Regions from separate parts of the Homo sapiens genome. Here region 2 is linked to region 1. The links come from fine-mapping of genetic effects on gene expression. A gene starts in region 1. The other region holds a variant in brackets. All regions are shown on one strand. Distances are between the middles of the regions.

Region 1 (8,306 bases):
GGCCAGAGGGTGAATACCAGCCCGGCGGCTGACAGGCCCAGGGCCAGCGCCCCAAAGAGCCACTGCAGCCAAGGCACAGGGATGAGCCACAGGACCTGGGAGCAACACGGCGGCAGGTGACCATGCCAGTCCCCCCAGCCACCACCCACTCTGCACCAGGCCACCCTCACCACCATGGGAATGAGGCGGCAGGTGACCATGCCAGTGTCCCCACACAGCCACCACCCACTCCGCGCCAGGCCACACTCACCACCATGGGGATGAAGACAAAGAGGGAGTAGCCGTAGATGCACACAGTCTCCAGGAAGGTGTAGGGCCCCATGCGCTCCTGGACACCCTTGCGCCACCGCAGGAAGCCCCACAGGGCCAGGGGCACCAGCCACGCATAGCAGTAGATGCTGATGCCTGCCACGGTCACTGGGGGGGGCAAGGTGAGCAGTCACCCCCTGTACCCCAGGGCCCTGCCAGGCATTGGGCCTGCCCGTCTGCTTACCCTTGTGGAACTGGGGGCTGTAGTGGATGGAGGGGTCCCTCCTCTGGGCCAGCACCAGCGTCAGGTTGCCAGTGACGGCCAGGACAAAGGCCAACGTGGCACAGATCCAGAAGGGGCCTGGGGGTAGGGGGCACAGTCAGGGTCCCGGGCCCTGCACTCCCAGGACAAGCAGACATGTATCCTGACTGAGCTGTGCTGAGACCCCAGCCTCTTCCTAAGCACCTTGCCTGACTCACCAGGACACCGGGGGCCTCCTGGTGGCTGAGCCCAGTGCTGGCTGTCAGTTCATCCCCCTCCCCGAAACACTCAGGACTGCACACCCTTGGCCTGTGTCTCACCTCATTGGTGCCAATTCCTCAACCCCTGTCACCTCCTCTTTGACTCTCTGACCCCTTCAGCCATGGGGAGCAGCCAGGCCCAGTTCTTGGCCCCTTCCATGTCTGCGTTCACCCATAGTATGACCTCCTTCAAGCCCAGGGCCTTATGCCTCCTCTAGAGCCCAGGGCTCTGCCCTGAGCACTGCAGGCTCCAGTTCAAGCTCCCGGGTGGGCATCTCCGGCTTCATCCACACCCTTGCCCTCTGCCCTCACTGCCAAGCTGGTCCCGTGGATACGTGGCAACTCTATCCATCCCGTTAGTCCAGGCAGAAATCCCTAGAGCCTGCCTCCGCTCCTAACCTCCCACTCCCCCCACCCCCACCTATCTAGCCACAAAGCCAGTCTCTTCTACTTCCCCAGCACGTTCCAGAATCCAGTGCCACTCTCCACATCCACAGTCCCCACCATGTGGCCGCCTCCACCCCAGCCTCCTGGCTTCCGCCCTCGCCACTCATGATGGCGAGAGGGACCCCGAAAACACTTAAAGATCCATTCTCGGCCAGATAACAGTGACTCACACCTGTAATTCCAGCACTTAGGAGGCCGAGGCGGGTGGATCACCTGAGGTCAGGAGTTTGAGACCAGCCTGGCTAACACGGTGAAACTCCGTCCCTAATAAAAATATAAAAATCAGCCGGGCATGGTGGCACGTGCCTGTAATCCCAGCCACTCAGGAGGCTGAAGCAGGAGAATCGCTTGAATGCGGGAGGGGAAGATTGCAGTGAGCTGAGATCACATCACTGCACTCCAGCCTGGGTGACAGAGTGAGACTCTGTCTCAAAAAAAAAAAAAAAAGATCTCTTCTTGCCACAGCATGGGAGGCTTGTGTGATCTGTCCCCTCGCCTGTGACCTCCCTGCAGCTCACTCGCTCCAGTGGTAATGCCGCCCTGCAGTTCATGCAAGTTCCTGCCATGAAGCTTACGTCGTTTCTGGAAGCCTCTTTTCCTAGGTCTCCCCCACCCCTCCTGTTGCCAACAAGGCTCATTCCCTCACCCTCCTCAGGGAGGCCTGCCCTGCTGCACCCTGCAGAACTGCAGGGCCACTCCTCCTGTCTGCTCTGCTGCTCTCTACCCGCCACCCTCTGCAGTCCTTCATGTCTCTGTCTCCCTGAACAGCAGGTAAGTCACACTGTCTGAGTGACTGATTTGTCCGCAGCTATACACTGGCATCTGCAACTCAGGCCACACTTGTTGAGTGATCCATCAAGGAACCAAATGCACAACCTCACTCACCATACAGATCCGGCCGATTCCGCAGATGGTGCCGCACAAAGTTGTGGCCAGGCCGGGGCAGCAGTGAGCCTTTGATCCGGTCCAGGACCTGGGGGCAAGGCCAAGGTCAAGGATGGAAGTCTGCCAGGAGCTTCTCCCTTGTCCTGAGAGGCTCCTTCCCTGCTGACCTCCACCCTTCTCTTTCCATGCCCCACCTGAAAGAACTCAGCCTTTCCCTCTCTTTTTTTTTTTTTTTTTTTTTGAGACAGAGTCTTGCTCTGTCGGCCAGGCTGGATGGAGTAGTGGCATGATCTCGGCTCACTGCAACCTCTGCCTCCCGAGCTCAAGCAATTCTCCTACCTCAGCCACCCGAGTAGCTGGGATTACAGGCGTGTGCCACCACGCCTGGCTAATAGTTGTATTTTTAATAGAGACGGGATTTCACCATGTTGGCCAGGCTGGTCTCGAACTCCTGACCTCAGGTAATCCACCCACCTCGGCCTCCCAAAGTACTGGGATTACAGGCGTGAGCCACCGTTCCCAGCCCCCTCTTTTTTTTCCCTCTTTTTTTTTTTGTTTTGAGACGGAGTCTCGCTCTGTCACCCAGGCTGGAGTGCAGTGGTGCCATCTCGGCTCACTGCAAGCTCCGCCTCCTGGGTTCACACCATTCTCCTGCCTCAGCCTCCCAAAGAGCAGGGACTACAGGCGCCCACCACCACCCCCGGCTAATTTTTTGTATTTTTAGTAGAGATGGGGTTTCACCGTGTTAGCCAGGATGGTCTCGATCTCCTGACCTCATGATCCTCCCACCTTGGCCTCCCAAAGTGCTGGGATTACAGGCGTGAGCCACCGCACCCGGCCTCAGCACCCCCTTTTTCTTTTTGAGACAGAGTCTCACTCTGTTCAGGCTGGAGTGCAGTGGCACGATCTTGGCTCACTACCACCTCCGCCTCCCAGGTTCAAGTGATTCTCGAGCCTCAGACTCCTGAGTAGCTGGGACTACAGGTGTGTGCCACCATGCCTGGCTAATTTTTGTATTTTTAGTAGAGATGGGGTTTCACCGCGTTGGCCAGGCTGGTCTCCAACTCCTGACCTCAAGTGATCCACCGCCTCGGCATCCCAAAGTGCTAGGATTACAGGCGCCGACCACTGCACTTGGCTAATTTTTCTATTTTATTTTATTTTTTATTTAATTTTATTTTATTTATCTTATTTTATTTTTGAGACAGAGTCTCATTCTTTTTGCCCAGGCTGGAGTGCACTGGCACGATCTTGGCTCACTGCAACCTCCGCCTGGCGGATTCAAGCGATTCTCCTGCCTCAGCCTCCAGAGTAGCTGGGATTACAGGCGCCCACCACAAAGCCCGGCTAATTTTGTTGTATTTTTAGTAGAGACGGGGTTTCACCATGTTTGGCCAGGCTGGTCTCAAACTCCTGACCTCAGGTGATCCACCCACCCAGGCCTCTCAAAGTGCTGGGATTACAGGCATGAGCCACCCCGCACCCGGCAGTTTTTGTATTTTTGGTAGAGACGGGGTTTCCCCATGTTAGCCAGGCTGGTCTTGAACTCCTCAGGTTATCTGCCCACCTCGGCCCCCTTAAGTGCTGGGATTACAGGCAGGAGCCACTGCGCCCAGTCCATCTTTGGTCTTCTGCATATGCTGTTCCCTGTGCCTGGAACATATACTCCTGCTTCCCTACCCTATTCCCCAGGGAAGCCTTCTGTCTCCTTTAGGTCTCAGCCAATTCCTCACCTCCCCCAGGAGGCCTTTCTCTAACCCACCAGATTGTGTGTGTCCCCTGTGTTCCCATAGTCCCGATCCATAACCAGTCCCACCATAACCCTTTGAGAGCACCACAGTTCGTTCACCAGCACCCACCATCACCAGCACCCTGCCCAGGGGAAGAGTGGCTGAACCCTGAGCATAACTCTGAGCCCCATCCCACCTGCCTCCCCAGCCTGACCTGTGAGGTGTCCACGTCAAAGAAGCTCTGATAGTAGCTGAAGGTCCAGAATCCCGGCTGCTGCTGCTGCTGCTGCTCCTGCAGGAGCTGCACATTGCGGGCATTCAGTGCCTGCCCGGAGAGCCTGGGTCAGCTGGGGGCTGCAAGGAGGCAGGACACAGGGACTCACCGCGGCCTTGTCACTCTCCTCCTCCACCTCATCCTCGGCTCCATAGCTGCCACCTGAGCCCACGGCCACAGCCACGTGCCCTTGTGGGGTCAGCTGATCGCTTCTGCTGGTGGTGGCTGCATCTGGGGTGTCAGCCAGAAGATTAGTGGCCTCCTCGAATTCTGTGGAGGAGGTATATGGGACACACGCACGTTTGAGGGGTGGAAAGAACTCGACTGGGCCCAAGCTAAACCGATGCTCATCTGGGGGCGGAGGCTCTGCTGAGCCATTGATCTCCCCCAAGGTGGGGCCCAACTTCCTCAGTTTGGAGGCATCCGGAGGACATCTGTTCCCTTCCTCCTAAAGTGGAACTGCAACTTAGGGTTGACGCTGGGATGGGGTCAGGGTCTGGGGACGAGAGGCTCGGGTTTGAGGTCTGAGTTCAGGGCGGGGGCGGGGTTCGAGTCAGAGATGGGTCTCACTCCTGGGTCAGGGTTCACAGCCGCCTAGGCTTCGGGGTAGAGAAATTGGAAGCCGTATCGGGGGGAGGTTCTGGCCCGGGGCGGGAGTGGGAGATCCGGCCACGTCGGGGCCGCACTCACCATGGAAGGTCAGCTCGTCGGCCGATGCCATGGTCGTTCAGGGGCGTCTCCGCATCCCTCGCTGAGGACAGAGACCGGTCAGGCACACTTCCCCCCCGCCCCCGAGCCGGTCCCTCGGCCCCCAGCCCTACCTGGCGACCAACTGCACCCACGGAGGCTTGAACTCGTCGTCCCGTCCCCACAGGTGCGCTCCGCCCCCCCTCACCTGAGGCCACCTGGGCCGGCGTGGCTGGGGCTCTCTGCGCCTGCGCGTCTCGCCTACCCGTCAGACTCCAACCGACTCAGACCTGACAGCAACATCCGGCGCCTGTCCTCTTTCTATCCTCTCCCGTTGGGAAGCCACTTCCGGTAAAGTTGGCGCTTGCGCAGAAGAGACTCCCGGGCTCTTAACGTCGGGTATCAGGAGTTTCTTCCCGGAGCAAGGACCCCCAAGACGGAAGAGGATGGCCGCGGCGGCTCTGAGGAGATTTTGGTCCCGGCGCCGCGCAGAGGCGGGCGACGCGGTAGTGGCGAAGCCGGGAGTGTGGGCGCGGCTGGGTGAGTAGCGGCGGAAGGCGGCAGGGTGGGTGGCCGCCGCGACAGGGTGGGTGGCCGCCGCGGCCGGATCACTCTTACCGCGCTCCTCTCCCCTCAGGGTCCTGGGCCCGCGCGCTGCTCCGGGACTACGCCGAGGCCTGCAGGGACGCTTCGGCGGAGGCTAGGGCCCGGCCGGGGCGCGCCGCTGTGTATGTGGGTCTGCTGGGCGGCGCGGCGGCCTGCTTCACGCTGGCGCCCAGCGAGGGTGCCTTCGAGGAGGCGCTGCTGGAGGCGTCGGGGACCCTCCTGCTGCTGGCGCCGGCCACCCGCAACCGCGAGTCCGAAGCCTTCGTGCAGAGGCTGCTCTGGCTGCGGGGCCGTGGCCGCCTGCGCTACGTCAACCTGGGGCTCTGCTCGCTGGTGTACGAGGCGCCCTTCGACGCCCAGGCCAGCCTCTACCAGGCGCGTTGCCGCTACCTGCAGCCCCGCTGGACCGACTTCCCCGGCCGGGTCCTGGACGTGGGCTTCGTGGGTCGCTGGTGGGTGCTGGGGGCCTGGATGCGCGACTGCGACATCAACGACGACGAATTCCTGCACCTGCCGGCGCATTTGCGGGTGGTCGGGCCCCAGCAGCTGCATTCCGAGACCAACGAGCGGCTCTTCGATGAGAAGTACAAGCCTGTCGTGCTCACCGACGATCAGGTGGACCAGGCGCTGTGGGAGGAGCAGGTCTTGCAGAAGGAGAAGAAGGACAGGCTCGCCCTGAGCCAGGCCCACTCGCTGGTGCAGGCGGAGGCCCCGAGATGAAACCCTGAGGCCCCCGAGTCCTGGCAAACTGCTTGCCTGGGGTGGTGCAGTTCTGAGTGTGCCTCACCTGCAGAACAGCTGAGACAGATGATGTGCAAAGTGTTTTCTCACTGGATTTGCACAAGTTTGGGGAGCCTTTCTGCCCCCCGTCTTTGTTCTTTATTAGCTGAAGCTAATTCAGAGCCACCTGGGTCCGGGAGTTGGGGACAGCAGAACGACTTGACACATGTTCATCACTGGCAGAGCTGGTCATGAGCCTTTTATATAAGCCTTTTTCATCGGGCCTCAGAGGCCCTCCTTAAGGAGGTACCACATTGGTCAGCTGACTTGCAAACTCTTCTAAGGCCACTTAGATTTTCTTTTTCAAGTTTGGGTTGTGGCCTGGCATGGTGATGTCTGTAATCCCAGCAGTTTGCAAACTGAGGCAAGAGAATCGCTTGAGGCCAGGAGTTTGAGGCCAGCTAGAGTGACATAGCAAGACTCCGATGCTACAAAAAAGAATAATAATAGTAATTAACTAAATAAAATTTGAGCTGAAATGTTTTTATTCTATGACCTATTCTCTCTCGTTTTTTTTTTTTTTTTTTTTGAGACAGGGTCTTGCTCTGTTTTGCCTGCTGGAGTGCAGTGGTGCAATCTCGGCTCACTGCAACCTCTGCCTCCCAGGTTCAAGTGATTCTCCTGCCTCAGCCTCCTCAGTAGCTGGGATTACAGGCCTGTGCCAACATGCCTGGCAAATTGTTGTATTTTTAATAGAGATGGGGTTTCACCATATTGGCCAGGCTGGTCTTGAACTCCTGACCTCAGGTGATCCACCTGCCTCGCATTTCCAAAGTGCTGGGATTATAGGAGTGAACCACCACACCTGGCCTTTCATTTTGATAAGTAACATTTTTGCCATTCCCAGCTCTTTGGAAGGCTGAGGTAGGAGGATTGCTTGAGATCAGGAGTTCAAGACCAGTTTAGGTAAAATAGTGAGAGCTTTCTCAAAAACTAAAATATTTGGAAGGGTAAAGCAGGCAAATCATTTGAGCTTAGGAGTTCAACACCAGCCTGGGCAATATGGCAAAACCCCGTCTCTACAAAAAGTACAAAAATTTACCAAAGGTGTTGAATGAGAATTGAAAATATGTATACATAGAAAAATTAGCCAGACATGTTGGACCATGTCTGTAGTCCCAGCTATTCAGGAAGGCTGAGATGGGAGGATCACCTGAGCCTGGGAGTTCAACGCTGCAGTGAGCCACGATCGTGCCACTGCACTCCATCTTGGACAACAGAGTGAGACTGTCTCAAAAAGTAAAATAAGTGGATGGGCCCGGTGGCTCAAGCCTGTAATCCCAGCACTTTGGGAGGCCGAGGCAGGTGGATCACGACGTCAGGAGATGGAGACCATCCTAGCTAACACGGTGAAACCCCATCTCTACTAAAAATTCAAAAAAATTGGCCGGGCGCGGTGGCTCACGCCTGTAATCCCAGCACTTTGGGAGGCCCAGTCAGGTGGATCACGAGGTCAGGAGATCGAGACCATCCTGGCTAACATGGTGAAACCCCGTCTCTACTAAAAATACAAAAAATTACCGGGGCGTGGTGGCGGGCACCTATAGTCCCAGCTACTCAGGAGGCTGAGGCAGGAGAATGGCATGAACCTGGGAGGCGGAGCTTGCAGTGAGCCGAGATTGCGCCACTGCACTCCAGCCTGGGCGACAGAACAAGACTCCGTCTCAAAAAAAAAAAAAAAAAAAAAATAGCTGGGCGTGGTGGCAGGCATCTGTAGTCCCAGCTACTCAGGAGGCTGAGGCAGGAGAATAGCGTGAACCCGGGAGGTGGAGCTTGCAGCAAGCAGAGATTGCACCACTGCACTCCAGCCTGGGCAACATAGTGAGACTCCAGCTCAAAAAAATAAATAAATAAGTAACATTTTTGTTTTGATTTTTTTAAGTTTTTTTTTGAGACAGAGTTTCGCTCTTGTTGCCCAGGCTGGAGTGCAGTGGCACTCGCCCCAACCACCGCCTCCTGGGTTCAAGCGTTTCTCCTGTCTCAGCCTCCCAAGTAGCTGGGATTACAGGCGCATGCCACCACGCCCGGCTAATTTTTGTATTTTTTAGTAGAGATGAGATTTCATCATGTTGGTCAGGCTGGCCTCAAACTCCTGACCTCAGGTGATCCGCCTGCCTCAGCCTCCC
Region 2 (15,336 bases), 20 kb before region 1:
TTTTATAGATAAGCCATATTTGTTTATCTGTTTGTCAGTTTATGGACATTTGGGTTGTATTTCTATCTTGTGTCTGTCGTGAATAAGTACTGCTGTGAATGCTTGCATACGAGTGTCTGTTGGTTTTTTTTGCTTTGTTTTGTTTTTATTTTTATTTTTTTGAGATGAGTCTGGCTCTGTCGCCCAGGCTGGGGTGCAGTGGCGTGATCTCGGCTCACCGCAAGCTCCGCCTCCCAGGTTCCTGCCATTCTCCTGCCTCAGCCTCCCGAGTAGCTGGGACTACAGGCACCCGTCACCACACCCGGCTAATTTTTTGTATTTTTAGTAGAGACGGGGTTTCACCGTGTTAGCCAGGATGGTCTCGATCTCCTGACCTTGTGATCCACCCGCCTCGGCCCCCCAAAGTGCTGGGATTACAGGTGTGAGCCACTGCACCCGGACTTTTTTTTTTTTTTTCTGAAGCGGAGTCTCACTCTGTTGCCCAAGCTAAAGTGCAGTGGCGCTATCTCAGCTCACTGCAACCTCCACCTCCCTGATTCAAGCAATTCTCCCTGTCTCAGCTTCCTGAGTAGCTGGGACTACAGGCACCCACCATCATGTCTGGCTAATTTTTGTGTTTTTAGTAGAGACGGCATTTTGCCATGTTGACCAGGCTGGTCTTGAACTCCTGACCTCAGGTGATCTGCCTGCCTCGGCCTCCCAAAGTGCTGGGATTACAGGCATGAGCCACTGCACTTGGCCAGCTTTTTGTTTGTTTGTTTGTTTTTGTTTTTGTTTTTTTAAAGAGGTGGAGTCTTGCTATGTTGCCCAGGCTGGAGTGCAGTGGCTGTTCACAGGCAGTCATAGCTAACTGCAACCTTGAGCTCCCGGGCTCAAGCAATCCTTCCACCTCAGCCTCCCGAGTAGCTGGGATCTCAGGCATGCACCACCATGCCCGGCTAATTTTGTTTATTTTTTTGTAGCGATAGAGATGGGGTCTTACTATGTTGCCCAGGCTGACCTTGAACTCCTGGCCTCAAGTTATCCTCCCATCTTGGCCTCCCAAAGTGCTGGGATTACAGGCATGAGCCTGTGCCTGGCCCTGGCTATCTCTTTGTTGTTGAGTTAAAAAAGTTCTTGGCCCAGCCCAGTGGCTCATGCCTGTAATCCCAGCACTTTGAGATGCCGAGGCGGACAGATCACACGAGGCTAGGACTTCAAAACCAGCCTGGCCAACATGACAAAACCCCGTCTCTACCAAAAATACAGAAATTACTGGGTGTGATGATGCATGTCTGTAATCCCAGCTACTCAGGAGGCTGAGGCATAAGAATCGCTTGAACGCAGCTACTCAGGAGGCAGAGGTTGCAGTGAGCCAAGATAGTGCTGCTGCACTCCAGCCTGGGCAACAGATCAAGAATCTGTCTCAAGAAAATATATAGGCCGGGCACAGTGGCTCACCTCTGTAATCCCAGCACTTTGGGACGCCGAGGCAGACAGAGCGCTTGAGCTCAGGAGCTCAAGACCAGCCTGACCAACATGGTGAAACTCCATCTCTACGAAAACTACAAAAATAAGCTGGACGTGGTGGTGCACACCTGTAGTCCCCCAGCTACTCGGGAGGCTGAGGCAGGAGAATCCCTAGAATCTGGGAGGCAGAGGTCACAGCAAGCCAAAATTGTGCCACTGCATTCCAGGCTGGGTGATGGAGTGAGACTCCATCTCAAAAAATAAATATAATAAAAATAGATACAAAATAATTGTTGTTTCTTTTTTTTTTTTTTTTTTTTTGAGACGGAGTCTTACTCTGTTGCCCAGGCTGGAGTACAGTGGTGTGATCTTGGCTCACTGCAAGCTCCACCTCCCGGGTTCACACCATTCTCCTGCCTCAGCCTCCTGAGTAGCTGGGACTATAGGCACTTGCCACTATGCCCAGCTAATTTTGTTTTGTTTTGTTTTGTTGTATTTTTAGTAGACACAGGGTTTCACTGTGTTAGCCAGCATGGTCTTGATCTCCTGACCTCGTGATCCACCCATCTTGCCCTCCCAAAGTGCTGGGATTACAGGCGTGAGCCACTGTGCCCAGACTTTTTTTTTTTTTTTTTGAGACATGCTCTTATTCTTGTCACCCAGGCTAGAGTGCAGCGTTGCCATCTCTGCTCACTGCAGTGTCAACTTCCTGGGCTCAGGTGATTCTCCCACCTCAGCCTCCCAAGTAATTGGGACTACAGGCGCATGCCACTACACCGACTAATATTTTTATATTTTTAGTAGAGACGGGATTTCACCATGTTGCCCAGGCTGGTCTCAAACTCCTGGGTTCTAGTAATCTGCCTGACTCCCAAAGTACTGGGATTACAGGTGTCAGCCACCATGCCTGACCCTAAAATAGTTTTTTATATATTCTGGACACTAAATACTTAACAATAGATGATTTGCAAATAGTTCTCCTAAGAGTTTTCTTGTTTTAGCTCTTATATTTAGGTCATTGCTCCATTTGAGTTCTGTTTTGTTTGTATATGGTGTGAGGTAGGGGTTTAACTTCATTCTTTTCTCTGTGGTTATCCAGTTTTCTCAACAGTGTTTGTTGAAGACACTATTCTTTCCCCATTGAATGTTCTTGGCATCCTTATCAAAAATCAATTGAGGATAAGTATAAGGGTTTATTTCTGGACTCTGATTCTGTTCCATTGATCTGTGTCTCCTTTCTTTTGCCAGTACCACTACACTGTTTTCATTACTGTACCTTCGTAGTAAAATTTGAAATTGAGACATGGGAATCCTCCAACTTCATTCTTTTTCAAGACTGTTTTGGCTATTCAGGGTGATTGAGAACACTTTGCCATATTTGCACTCATGTTGTTGTTGTTATGATGGGCTATTCAAAAGCAAGCTACTGACATCATGGGAATTTGCCATAAATACTTCCGCATATGTTTTCTAAGAAAATATGCATTTCTCTACAAAACCACAATACCATTGTCACATCCAAATAACTTAAAATTATGGAATATGTAGTCCACACTCACATTTCCCTAGTTGTCTTTTTTTTTTTTTTTAATAGGATCTCACGTCTGTTGCCTAGACTAGAGTGCAGTGGCACCATCATACCTCACTACAGCCTCAACCTCCTGGGCTCAAGCGATCCTCCCACCTCAGCCTCCCAAGTAGCTAGGACCACAGGTGTGAGCCACTCTGTCCAGCTCCCCAGTTGTCCTTTATTTATTTTTTTGAGACAAGGTCTTGCTCTGTCACCCAGGCTGGAATGCAGTGGCACAGTCATGACTCACTGTAGCCTCAGCCTCCTGAGTCCCTAAGACAACAGGCGCATGCCACCATGCCTGCCTAATTTTTAAATTTTTTTGTAGAGATGGGGTCTTGCTATGCTGCCCAGGCTGATCTCCAGCTCCTGGGTTCAAGTGATCCTCCTGCCTTGGCCTCCCAAAGTGCTGGGATTAGAGGTGTGGGCCCAGCCTCCCCAGTTGTCCTGTATAACTTTTAAAAACATTTTTCGTTTGGCTCCAGCCCAGGGTCCCACTTTGCATTGCATTGGGCACTCCCCTCTTTCTTGTCTCCTGCACTCTGGAATAGCTCCCACCGTTTTGGTCTTTCCTGACATTGGCCTGTTCAAGGAGACCAGGCTGGTTGTCCTGTAGCCTGCCCCACAACTTGTCCTTTTCTGTTGTCCCTTGAAGATGAGACTAGGGCAAACATTTTTGCCAAGAATACTACAGATGATGCACCTGTCCCACTGCAGTATGGCAGGCAGGGGCACAGTGCCTGATTGGGCTGGCCCGTTCCTGGCATCGCTAAGTTTCACCATTTGGCTGGAGTGGAGTGGCTGCAGGTTTGTGGAATGAATGACTGGTAACAGCTATCATGATGGGTACAGGGAGACAGTGTCCTAATTCACTAGACCACTGCCCCGCCATTAGCCCCATCTGATGGTGAGAACCCCAGTTCCAGAGAGGCTGAGGGACATGCCTGTGTCACAGTGAACAAATGGCATGGATGGGGTGTGAACCCAGCGGTCTGACTCCACTGGCCACATGCAGTCACTGCTCTGCGCCCATCCAAGAACAGAAGGGCTCAGCCGAGCAGGGCAGAGGCAGCTCCAGCTCTGAGTTCCTGTGGGCCAGCACCATGCCTTGTGGCCCTGTCTGCCCACCTCAGCCTTCACCATGCCCGTCTCAGCCCTGATCATCCTGAGGACACAGGCTGTGTTCCTGCTGTCTGATCAGTCGCTCCCTTGTCTTCCATGTGGGCTGGGCAGTCAGGGCACCCGGCAATGCTGCCAGGGTGGTTTTGTGGCACTCTGGAAGAATCTGGGGGCACCAAGGGGAGGCAGCAGGAGGGCGACAGGGACCCAGGCTCAAAAGAAGGCAGCTGACAGGGCTGCACCGCTCACGCCAGCCTGTCTTCTCTCGTAGATGAAGATGTGTGTGTCTTTAAGTGCTCAGTGTCCCGAGAGACAGAGTGCAGCCGTGTGGGCAAGCAGTCCTTCATCATCACCCTGGGCTGCAACAGCGTCCTCATCCAGTTCGCCACACCCAACGGTACGTGGCCCTCCTTCCATTCCGGTGACACCAGCCCAAAGCGCCCAGAGCCCTGGTGGGCAGGGGCGTAGAGCCTGGCTGAGGGGTGGCCCGTGCATCCTTAAGAAGGCTCCACTGCCCTCAAAACCACATTCCCACATGCAGGTATGCCCAGAATACACTCTGGCCTGGGCAGACCCTGGATCCCAGACCCTCCCTCACCGGCTCCTCCGGGTCTTTTGGGGCTTGGCTTCTATGTCCCCACCTCCAAGAGGCCCATCCTGACCACCTGGGACCAGTCTTTCTGGCAGTGGCCAGCCCTGGGCCAGCTGTGACTGGGCCAGCTGTGGATGGAGTGAGGCGAGGTCCTAGAGGCAGGAAGAGTTTGCTCAGGGCGCAGAGAAGCCACCAGAAGGGCTTAACCAACCCACCTTGGGGGCACAGGTGGACACAAGATTCCTGACTAGGGGTGGGAGAACCCCAGGTGGATGCAGCCAGGGTAGCAGAGAGGTGTCCAGGAATGCCCAGGGCTGGAGATGGTCTGAAGGTCCCACCGCAGGCTTGGTTACCAGAGACCTGAAGTGAGTCCAGTGGTTGACACAGGTGCTGGTGCGAGGACAGCTGGAGGTGGAGAGGCTGCGTGCCCATGAGCCACTGCCGGCCTCCCCCTTGTCTCAAGGTAGCTGTGCAGTGACCCAGATGTACCTTGGGCAGCCTGAGCCCTCGGGGCCAGCTGTGTGAAGCTGCCATGCCTGGCTAATTTTTTGTAGAGATGGGTTTTCACTGTGTTGCCCAGGCTGGTCTTGAACTCCTGGCCTCAAGTGAGCCACCTGCCTCAGCCTCCCAAAGTGCTGGGATTACAGATGTGAGCCACCGTGCCCGGCCCCTTTTTTTTTTTTTTTTTTTTTTTTGAGAAAGAGTGTCACTCTGTTGCCCAGGCTGGAGTTCAGTGGTGCTATCTTAGCTCACTGCAACCTCCACCTCCCGGGTTCAAGGCGATTCTTATGCCTCAGCCTCCCGCGTAGCTGGGACTACACGTGTGTGCCACCGTGCCTGGCTAATTTTTGTGTTTTTAATATAGTAGACATGGAGTTTTTCATATTGCCCAGGCTGGTCTCAAACTCCTGGCCTCAAGTGATCCACCCGCCTCAGCCTCCCAACGTGCTGGGATTACAGGCATGAGCCACTGCACCCGGCCGTTCCCACTCTTAAGACTATTTGTATTTTAATATTTTTTATTTCAGTTCTGTCAGTTTTTAAAAGTTGTGCTAAAATCTACATAACAAAATGTGATCATTTTAACCCTTTTGAAGTGTGTAGGTTGGTAGCAAGCAGCACATTAACATTGTTGTGCAACTGTCACTACCGCCCATCTCCAGAACTTGCTCATCCCGAACTGTGTCTTTTCATTGTTTTTGAGACGGAGTCTCGCTCTGTCACCCAGGCTGGAGTGCTGGAGTGCAGTGGCGCGATCTCGGCTCACCGCAACCTCCATCTCCCAGGTTCAAGCGATTCTCCTGCCTCAGCGCCCTGAGTAGCCGGGATTACAGGCACGTGCCACTGTACCCAGATAATTTTTTGTATTTTTAGTAGAGACGGGGGTTTCACCATGTTGGCCAGGCTGGTCTTGAACTCCTGACCTCAGGTAATCCGCCTGCCTCCGCCTCCCAAAGTGCTAGGATTACATGCGTGAGCAACCATGCCTGACCGTGTCTTTTAATTTTTAAAGAGATTGTCTTTTAAATATTGTTTTGTTTTTTACTTGATATAATTTAGTGGCTATTATTCTATGTTAATAAATATAGCTTTATTTTATTTTATTTTATTTTATTTTATTTTATTTTATTTTATTTTATTTTATTTTATTTTGAGACAGAGTCTCACTCTGTTGCCCAGGCTGGAGTGCAGTCACACAATCTTGGCTCACTGCAACCTCCACCTCCCGGGTTCAAGTGATTCTCCCACCTCAGCCTCCTGAGTAGCTGGGATTACAGGTGCCCGCCACCACCCCTGGCTAATTTCTGTATTTTTAATAGAGACAGGGTTTCACCATGTTGGCCAGGCTGGTCTCGAACTCCTGACCTCAAGTGATCCACTCGCCTCAGCCTCCCAAAGTGCTAGGATTACAGGCATAAGCCACCGTGCCCGGCTTATTATTTCTTGTAGAGACAGGGTCTTGCTATGTTGCCCAGGCTGGCCTCTTAAACTGGGCTCAAGCAGTCCACCCGCCTCAGCCTCCCAATGTGCTGGGATTACAGTTGAGAACCACTGTCCCCAGCCAAATAGATAGAGCCTGCTTTAAAGGGCCACATACCATTGCATCTCTGGGAAGGGTGGTGATTGGTGATTCTCTGCCATGCTTTTCTTAATTTTTTATTTCATGTTTTTGTTTTTGTTTTTTAACGAGGCAGGGTCTTGTTATGTTGCTCAGGCTGGTCTGGAACTCCTGACAGCTGATCTGCCCACCTCAGCCTCCCACCTCAGCCTCCCAAAGTGCTGGGATTACAGGCATGAGCCACTGCACCTGGCCTCTACTGTGCTTTTCTGTGCCCCTGGCATTTGTCCAGTCCCCTCTTACTGGACATTGCAGTGTCTGCTGCCCCCACACAGATGCTGCCCTGAGCTTCTGGGTGGACTTGGGCTTATTTGCCAGAGCTTTGACTCCTGGGCC[G/A]GTGGGCGTGTGCTTGAGAGAGCTTCACCAAGCTGCCCTTTGGTGAGGAATCCCCAGGCCCACTCCCACCAGACAGCAGCCCCACATGCAGGCTACCTGCCCTCTTCTCATGTCAGTCACCACAGTGCAGGCATGGCTGCCCTTCATCTTTTCTTTGAACTTTGAAAATTGTTTTTCGGGGAAGAGAAATCACCAGCCCTGTATGTTCAAGGGAGAAACGTCAGGACATACGGCCATCCAGAACCTTCCCTCCCAGATGGCCACATGCTGGGTTGCTGACCGCCCCCCGGTGACTTGGCTTCCCTGTTCCAGATTTCTGTTCCTTCTACAACATCCTGAAAACCTGCCGGGGCCACACCCTGGAGCGGTCTGTGTTCAGCGAGCGGACGGAGGAGTCTTCTGCCGTGCAGTACTTCCAGGTGGGTTGTACTCCCCCTCAGCCAGGCCGCCTCCCCCCGGCAGCCCCCCTGCCACTCACCCGCAGGAGGCCACACAGCACAGGGAAGGCCCACCCAAGTTCCCGTCCTGGCTCTGTCCCTTACTGGCCATGTAGCCTTGGGCAGGTTTCCTCTGCTGGCTGGGCCTCAGTTTCCTCATCTGTGAAGCGGAGATGCAGGTGCCTGCCTGAGAGGGTTGCTGGAAGGATCTGAGCACAGGTGGAGCTCAGGGCCACAGGCGTTGTGAATAACGGTAGAGCAGTTACAATGCCCTGAGCGCTCCCTGCATGCCAGGCCCTGGTCTAAGCGCTGTCACATGCACAGAAGCACTTGGACCCTCCCAACAACGCTAGGAGGTAAGTGCTATTATTGTCCCCATTTTACAGATGAGAAAACTGAGGCTCAGAGAGGTTAAGTGACTTGCTCCAAGTCACACAGCTATATGCAACAGAGCCAAGATGGGAAGCCAGGTCTGCCTGATGCCAAAGTCTGTGCCCCTGCCCAGGTGCCACGCTGCCTCCCGATCGCCCGTTGTCTTACAGAGAGACACCACACCTCACCTGCCTGGCGCTCTGAGTTCTAGGGCTCTGTTCGATCTGCTTCTCTTCTTCTTTGGGGCCCTCAAGATGAGGCAGGTGGCCCCCGATGCCAGAACCCTGCCTGTGGCAAATCTTGAGTTCTCCTGGGCGGCTTCCAGGTCCAGGCGGCATCAGCTGTTGCCATCGGCTGCAGTGATAGTGGCGGTGTCCTCCTGGGGGCTGCCCTCCGGCTTCCTGCTCCCTCTCCTGGAGCTGCTAGTGGGGCCCAGGCAGAGGGTGCACGACCTCCCGAGGGAGGTTTGTGCCCTAGATGGCCCCTTGCTCTATCACAGGGCTGGCCAGGGCCTTGGCTGCCTCGTGCCACCATGTGCCCCGTGCCATCGGTATGTCTCTGTTCCAGTTTTATGGCTACCTGTCCCAGCAGCAGAACATGATGCAGGACTACGTGCGGACAGGCACCTACCAGCGCGCCATCCTGCAAAACCACACCGACTTCAAGGACAAGGTGAGTGGCCCGCGCATGTGCCCACCTCTCTGCTTCTGTCTCGGTTTTTTTTTTCTTTGCTCATTGATTTTATCTTTAATTTTCTCAGATTAGAAATGCATTTATCTCAGTTACTGCAGAGGCTGAGGCAGGAGGATCGCTTCAGTCCATGAGTTTGAGGCTGCAGTAAGCTATGATTCTGCCACTGCACTCCAGCCTGGGCGACAGAGCGAGACTCTTGTCTCTTAAAAAAAAACAAATAAACAAGGCCAGGCGCGGTGGCTCACGCCTGTAATCCCAGCACTTTGGGACGCCCAGGCGGGCGGGTCACAAGGTCAGGAGATCGAGACCATCCTGGCTAACACGATGAAACCCCGTCTCTACTAAAAAATACAAAAAAATTAGTTGGGCGTGGTGGTGGGCGCCTGTAGTCCCAGCTACTCAGGAGGCTGAGGCAGGTGAATGGCATGAACGCAGGAGGCAGAGCTTGCAGTGAGCTGAGATCGCGCCACTGCACTGCAGCCTGGGCAACAGAGTGAGACTCCATCTCAAAAAACAAACAAACAAACAAAAAAAACAAAAAGCAAGAAAAACAAATGCATTTGATATATAAACTCAACACAGCATGTACATTATAGGCTTGAGAGGCCTCTATCAGTTCCCTCCAAGATAGCCGCTACCCCTCAGTATGAGGTCTCTTCTTCAAGATTTTTCCCCATACAGACATCAGCGTATATTTTACAATTATTTTATTGAGCTGGGCAGAGTAGCTCACACCTGTCTGTAATCCCAGCACTTTGGGAGGCCAAGGCAGGGGGATCATTTGAGCCCAGGAAGTTGAAACTGCGGTGAGCTGTGATTGGGGTACTGCTCTCCAGGCTGAGCCAAAGTGCGAGACCCTGCCTCAAAAACAAAATAAATAAGCTTTTTGATATCACCAAATAATGTGCACTCATGATTAAAGAGAGAGAGAACAGAGCAGAACGTCTGTATTCAAAAGTAGAAATCGGCCAGGCACAGTGGCTCACACCTGTAATCCCAGCACTTTGGGAGGCTGAGGCAGGTGGATCACTTGAGGTTAGCAGTTCGAGACCACCCTGGCCAACATGGCAAAAGCCCATTTCTACTAAAATAAAATACAAAAATTAGCTGGGCGTGGTGGCAGGCACCTGTAGTCCCAGCTACTCAGGAGGCTGAGGCAGGAGAATCACTTGAACCTGGGAGGCGGAGGTTGCAGTGAGCCGAGATTGTGCCACTGCACTCCAGCCTGGGCAAGAGAGCAAGACTCCGTCTTAAAAAAAAAAAGTAGAAATGTATAATGTATTCCCTTCTCATCCCATTTGCCAGAGTTTTTGGTGTCTACCTTTTTTATTTTTTTATTTTTACTTTTTTTTTTATGAGATGGAGTCTTGCTTTGTTACCAGGCTGGAGTGCAGTGACACAATCTCGGCTCACTGCAACCTCCGCCTCCCGGGTTCAAGCAATTCTCCTGCCTCAGCCTCCTGAGTAGCTGGGACTACAGGCGCACACCACCAAGCCCAGCAGATTTTTGTATTTTTGGTAGAGACAGGGTTTCACCATGTTGGCCAGGATGGTCTAGATCTCTTGACCTCATGATCCACCCACCTCAGCCTCCCAAAGTGCTTGGATTACAGGCATGAGCCACTGCACCCGGCTTACTCAGAATTTTTGTTTTCTCTTTCTGTTTTTGGGGGGTTTTTTGAGACAGATTCTCACTCTGTCACCCAGGCTGGAATGCAGTGGCACAATCTCAGCTCACTGCAGCCTCTGCCTCCTGGGTTCAAGCGATTTTTGTGCCTCAGCCGGCCAAGTAGCTGGGATTACAGTCATGTGCCACCATGCCCGGCTAATTTTTGTATTTTTAGTAGAGATGGGGTTCTGCCATGTTGCCCAGGCTGGTCTCAAACTTCTGGCCTCAAGCAGTTCATCCGCCTCAGCCTCCCAAAGTGCTGAGATTACAGGTGTGAGCCGCCGCACCTGGCCTGTTTTCTCTTTTGAATCAAATGGGAGCCTGTTTTTTTCCTCCAAGTATTTTGGGGATCTCTCCACGTGGATCTGCATGGATCTGCCTCATCCAGCGCCTGGGTCACGCCCCCCTAGCATCGCTTACCGTCCCAGAGGATGGTAGGCCTTGGGCCCTGGGGAGGAGTTGTCTTGACACAAGAGTGTCTGCCCTGGCAGGGCCATCCCGAGCCTCCTCCTGGCCACTGAGGTCTGGGAAGGACGTCCTCCGTTGGTGAAGTCCCTTCCTGCTCCCCAAGGATGGAGATCCATTTCCTGGTTCATCTGGAGCTCTGATCAGTACCCTGAGGCCTTCCCACCTGACCCCAGCTTCCCCTGCAGGCACTCACCATGCCCAGAGCATTTGTCCTTCAAAAGCTCATGCCTGTCACCACCAGGAATGTCTGTCCTTGGTCTGCTCGTGTGGAAGCAATCCCACAAATCCAGAACAGGTGGTGTGTTCTCCCAGACCCTGGCCTGGACTCTGCCATGAGTGACCACCACGGGCCAGTAGCCCTGCGGGGAGCCCAGCCGGCCCCAGGGCTTGGGCGGCTCACCTGCCCCAGCCAAGACGGGCTGCTTCTCCAGGCATGAGTCAGCATGGAGCTGGGAGACACTGCCACCAACAACTCGGGCCCCTTTCCTCCATGCTAGAACTGCGGAGGCCCCGGAAAAATGCTTTTCAACTGCCAGTGAGCTTCCAGGGGAGGCCCGTGCCACTCACCCCAGACGATCCGGAGGCCTGCAGGCCACAGGGTTGGGGCCGAGCGGGAGCTTCCCCAGGGCTTCTCCTCCCGGAGGACTGGCCCATGGCTCATCTTGAGTTCTCGCTTCATTTTGACCAAGAGCCCATAAAGGGCAAACATTGAGAGTGAAGACAGACGCCTCATGATGTGCACATCCCTTATGATCACTGTCACCTCCCCATCACCGTCGCCTCCTATGTCTCGCTCTCACCTCCCACTCCTCCCTCAGATCGTTCTTGATGTTGGCTGTGGCTCTGGGATCCTGTCGTTTTTTGCCGCCCAAGCTGGAGCACGGAAAATCTACGCGGTGGAGGCCAGCACCATGGCCCAGCACGCTGAGGTCAGTGGCCCGCTGGTGCCCACCCAGCCTCGTCCTCGCCCATGAGTGCCATGCCGGCCCCAGCCTAGAGAAGCTTGGGAACCCCCAGGGGCCTGGGGACATTACTTCTGTGCTTTGGTCTCTTTATTGTCCCCAAGACAGTCATTTCAGGGAGGGGCTTCAGGGCCTGAGATGATTTTCTCTCATGGCCGGTAGTCAGGGCCACATGTCATTTCCCTGTTTTCTTTTTTTTTTTTTTGCACTGAAACCTTCATTCACAAAGTTCAAAACATAAAAGCTAAAAAAGAGCAGACAGCGTGCTCTCCTTCCCCACCCCAGCTCCCACCCCCAGCCCCATCATGAGAGAGGAGCTACGGCCACAAAGTCTGAGCAGAGCTATTCCGTGAGCGTCCTCTCGCACCAGTGGAGGCTGCACCCTCCATTCCCTGCTCTGCCTCTCCCATGGATCTGGGGTCGCCGGGGTCGTGGAGGGGCCATCTTTGTTCTGTCTTGCCGCCGCAGAGCACCCCTGTGCCCAGCCGTGCCGCTGTTGCTTTAGCTGCATTGTGTCCGCAGCGACACTCAGACTCCTTCCAGGTCTTCACGTGGCCAACGCTGCTGTCCTGAGCCCCTCTCCCACATGCGGTTGTGTCTGTAGGACACACCCTAGCCCTGGAATCGCTGGGTTGGGGGTGCATCCAGCTTTAGCTTTGGTGGCTGTTGTGATGTCTGCTCGTCCCCCTCTTTGCAGCCACCAGCAGTTGTCGACGCAGGGTGGGGGACCTAGGAGGCCGCAGCAGGGGACGGCCCTGAGGCAGGGCCGGGGTCACAGTGAACTCTCTTTTTTTTTGGGGGGGGTCTCACTCTGTTGCTCAGGCTTGAGTGCAGTGGTGCGATCCTGGCTCATTGCAACCTCCACCTCCCGGGTTCAAGTGATTCTCCTGTCTCAGGCTCCTGAATAGCTGGGATCCACCACTGCAACTGGCTAATTTTTGTATTTTTAGGCCAGGCATGGTGGCTCACACCTGTAATCCCAGCACTTTGGGAGGCTTAGGTGGGCGGATCACCTGAGGTCAAGAGTTCGAGACCAGCCTGACCAACGTGGCAAAACCCCATTAGCCAGGCGTGGTGGTGGGTGCCTGTAGTCCCAGCTACTCGGGAGGCTGAGGTGGGAGAATCGCTAGAACCCGGGAGGCAGAGGTTGCAGTGAGCCGAGATGGCGCCACTACCACCTCCAGCCTGGGCAACAGAGTGAGAATCTGTCTCAAAGAAAAAAAAAATAGTTTTTTTTTTTTGGTATTTTTAGTAGAGACAGGGTTTCTCCATGTTGGTCAGGCTAGTCTCCCAACTTATGAGGTCAAGCAGTCCGCCTGCCTCGGCCTCCCAAAGTGCTGGGATTACAGGCATGAGGCACCGTGCCCGGCCCACAGTGAGCTCTTAACAGGCTATGGCCAATCGCAGCCATGGTTGGGGCGCCAGCGAAGCAGGCAGAGGGGCACCCAATGCCCATGTGTGGATGGAGGCTGTCCCTTGAGAGCAGGTCTAGGGAGGGCCCCATGGCAGGAAGACGCAGGGAAGCCCACATGGCCCTGCCCGCCTGCAGGTCTTGGTGAAGAGTAACAACCTGACGGACCGCATCGTGGTCATCCCGGGCAAGGTGGAGGAGGTGTCACTCCCCGAGCAGGTGGACATCATCATCTCGGAGCCCATGGGCTACATGCTCTTCAACGAGCGCATGCTGGAGAGCTACCTCCACGCCAAGAAGTACCTGAAGCCCAGCGGTGAGCACTGGGGGGTACACAGGCCAGGCCCCTCGGTGGAGGCCCTGGCTGCCGCTGAGCCAGGCCATCAGTGCTTCAGCTCCCTGCTTACTGTCGGTGGCCCGGGGTGTAGGGAAGCCTGGGCTTTTCCCCCGCTCCCACCCCAACCCCACTCCAGCCAGCTGTGGCTTTTGGAGCCCTGGGCCCCAAACACGGCCAGACACCCAGCTGCCCACTCGCCCAGACAGGGTACACAGGATCTCCTGGCACCTCTGCCGTCCCATGTCCTGCTCCTGCGGGACAGCCTCTGGCTGGGAGTGGGGATTGGGACAGGTTCTGTGGTCAGCAGTTCCCCAACAAGCCCTGCTCTCCTCACAGTCCAGGAGGTGGGGTGGGCGAGCATGTGTGCAAATGCAGGGGTGTGGGTGCGAGTGTACGTGTGTGAGGAGGTGAGGTAGCTGTCTGGCAAGCCCATCTGTCACTTCCCATCCGTGCCTCTGGGTATGGCCTCTGGTCACTGGGTGACTGTTTCTTTTTTTGAGACAGAGTTTCACTCTTGTTGCCAAGGCTGGAGTGCAGTGGTGCGATCTCGGCTCACTGCAACCTGCACCTCCCCAGTTCAAGCAATTTTTGTGCTTCAGCCTCCTGAGTAGCTGGGATTACAGGTGTGCACCACCACGCCCAGCTAAGTTTTGTATTTTTAGTAGAGATGGGGTTTCACCGTGTTGGTCAGGCTGGTCACGAACTCCTGACCTCAGGTGATCTACCCGCCTCAGCCTCCCAAAGTGTTGGGATTATAGGCATGAGCCACTGTGCCTGGCCTGGGTGACTGTTTCTATTTGCCCATCTGTCTTGGGGTCTGTGCAGCCCTGACGCCTGAGGCATGTGCCTGTGGCTCTTCTCATGCTAGGTATGTGAGCGTCTGAGCATTTCTGTACAGGCAAGCAGCTGTGTGTGCGTGTGGCAGGGTACAGGTCCCCAGCCAGGGTAGCAGCCATGGGATGGAGCGTGGGCAGCAGCAGGCTGGTGGGGCTTGTGCAGGCAGGGGCAGGGGGGAAGCTTCCACTCTCATCTCTGGCCCGCCCTGGATCCAGGCCCTAGGGTCCTGGCTGGCTGTGCTCCTGGAGGTGGGAGGTGGCGTCCCACAGCTGTGTCTCATGTCTTGGGTGTGAGTATGGGAAGCAAGGCTGCTCCAGGGGCTGTGGGCCCCACTCTCCTCCCCTTCTGCCCTGATGGTGGGGATGGGGGTGGGGACAGCCCCAGCAGAGAGGGCCCCTCCCGATGGGACATGAAGCCAGATGGCAGTCAGGCTCTGTGGGCAGCTGCATGTGCCCCCGACGTCCCAGCAGCCAGCTTGCAGGGAGGGGGGAGGCCAGGCCTGTGCAAGGAGGACTCCTGTCCAGCTCAGGAAGCTCTTCCAGGGGTTAAAGGCAGCCCTCCCCTCTCCCAGTCACATGTCTTCTGGTCAGCAGGAGCCAGAGGTTCCTTCCAGGCTGGGTCACTTCCCATGGTGCCCCCAGGTCCCCCAGGGCAGAAGCCGCAGCATGTGCATCTCCCTCCCCGTTCCAGCAGCTGCAGCCCTGCAGCTCTCGCCTCGGGTACAGCCTGGTGGCGTAAGGAGGAGGCAGAGTCCCACTGATACCTCAGGATCTCCTCCCCCAGCTTGCAAGGCTGGGGGGCCCACATCTGGAGGCCAGGTGCTCCTTGGGGCAGGCGGGGCTGCGGGGCCCTGATCCTCCCTGCCACTGGCCCTGACTCATGCGTCTACCCTTGAGTCACAGAGGGAGGCCCTGCCCTTCCCTCAGTCTGTGTGCCCAGACCAGGCAGGCCAAGTGGCCCATCCT

The links.
Region 2: its variant is fine-mapped to the expression of YIPF2 in whole blood (TOPMed, PIP 0.95).

The regions. Positions count from the first base shown.
Region 1 is chr19:10,923,583-10,931,888 of GRCh38, forward strand. It overlaps YIPF2 (Yip1 domain family member 2), which reads right to left and starts at 5,057. Exons shown (of 10, transcript NM_001321439.2): 1 at 4,929-5,057; 2 at 4,798-4,858; 3 at 4,217-4,377; 4 at 4,048-4,134; 5 at 2,104-2,191; 6 at 494-610; 7 at 251-417; 8 at 1-95. The coding sequence starts at 4,828. TIMM29 (translocase of inner mitochondrial membrane 29) reads left to right here and starts at 5,229. Exons shown (of 2, transcript NM_138358.4): 1 at 5,229-5,334; 2 at 5,432-6,672. The coding sequence starts at 5,241. The coding sequence ends at 6,120. RefSeq lists enhancers at 3,688-4,390, 4,391-5,091 and silencers at 5,305-5,584, 5,625-5,674.
Region 2 is chr19:10,900,542-10,915,877 of GRCh38, forward strand. It overlaps CARM1 (coactivator associated arginine methyltransferase 1), which reads left to right. Exons shown (of 16, transcript NM_199141.2): 2 at 4,410-4,535; 3 at 7,498-7,604; 4 at 8,562-8,666; 5 at 11,643-11,753; 6 at 13,336-13,513. Among named protein-coding and RNA genes, the nearest start is that of YIPF2, 20 kb to the right of the region's middle. RefSeq lists a silencer at 4,485-4,672. The variant G/A (reference allele first, on the strand shown) is at 7,186.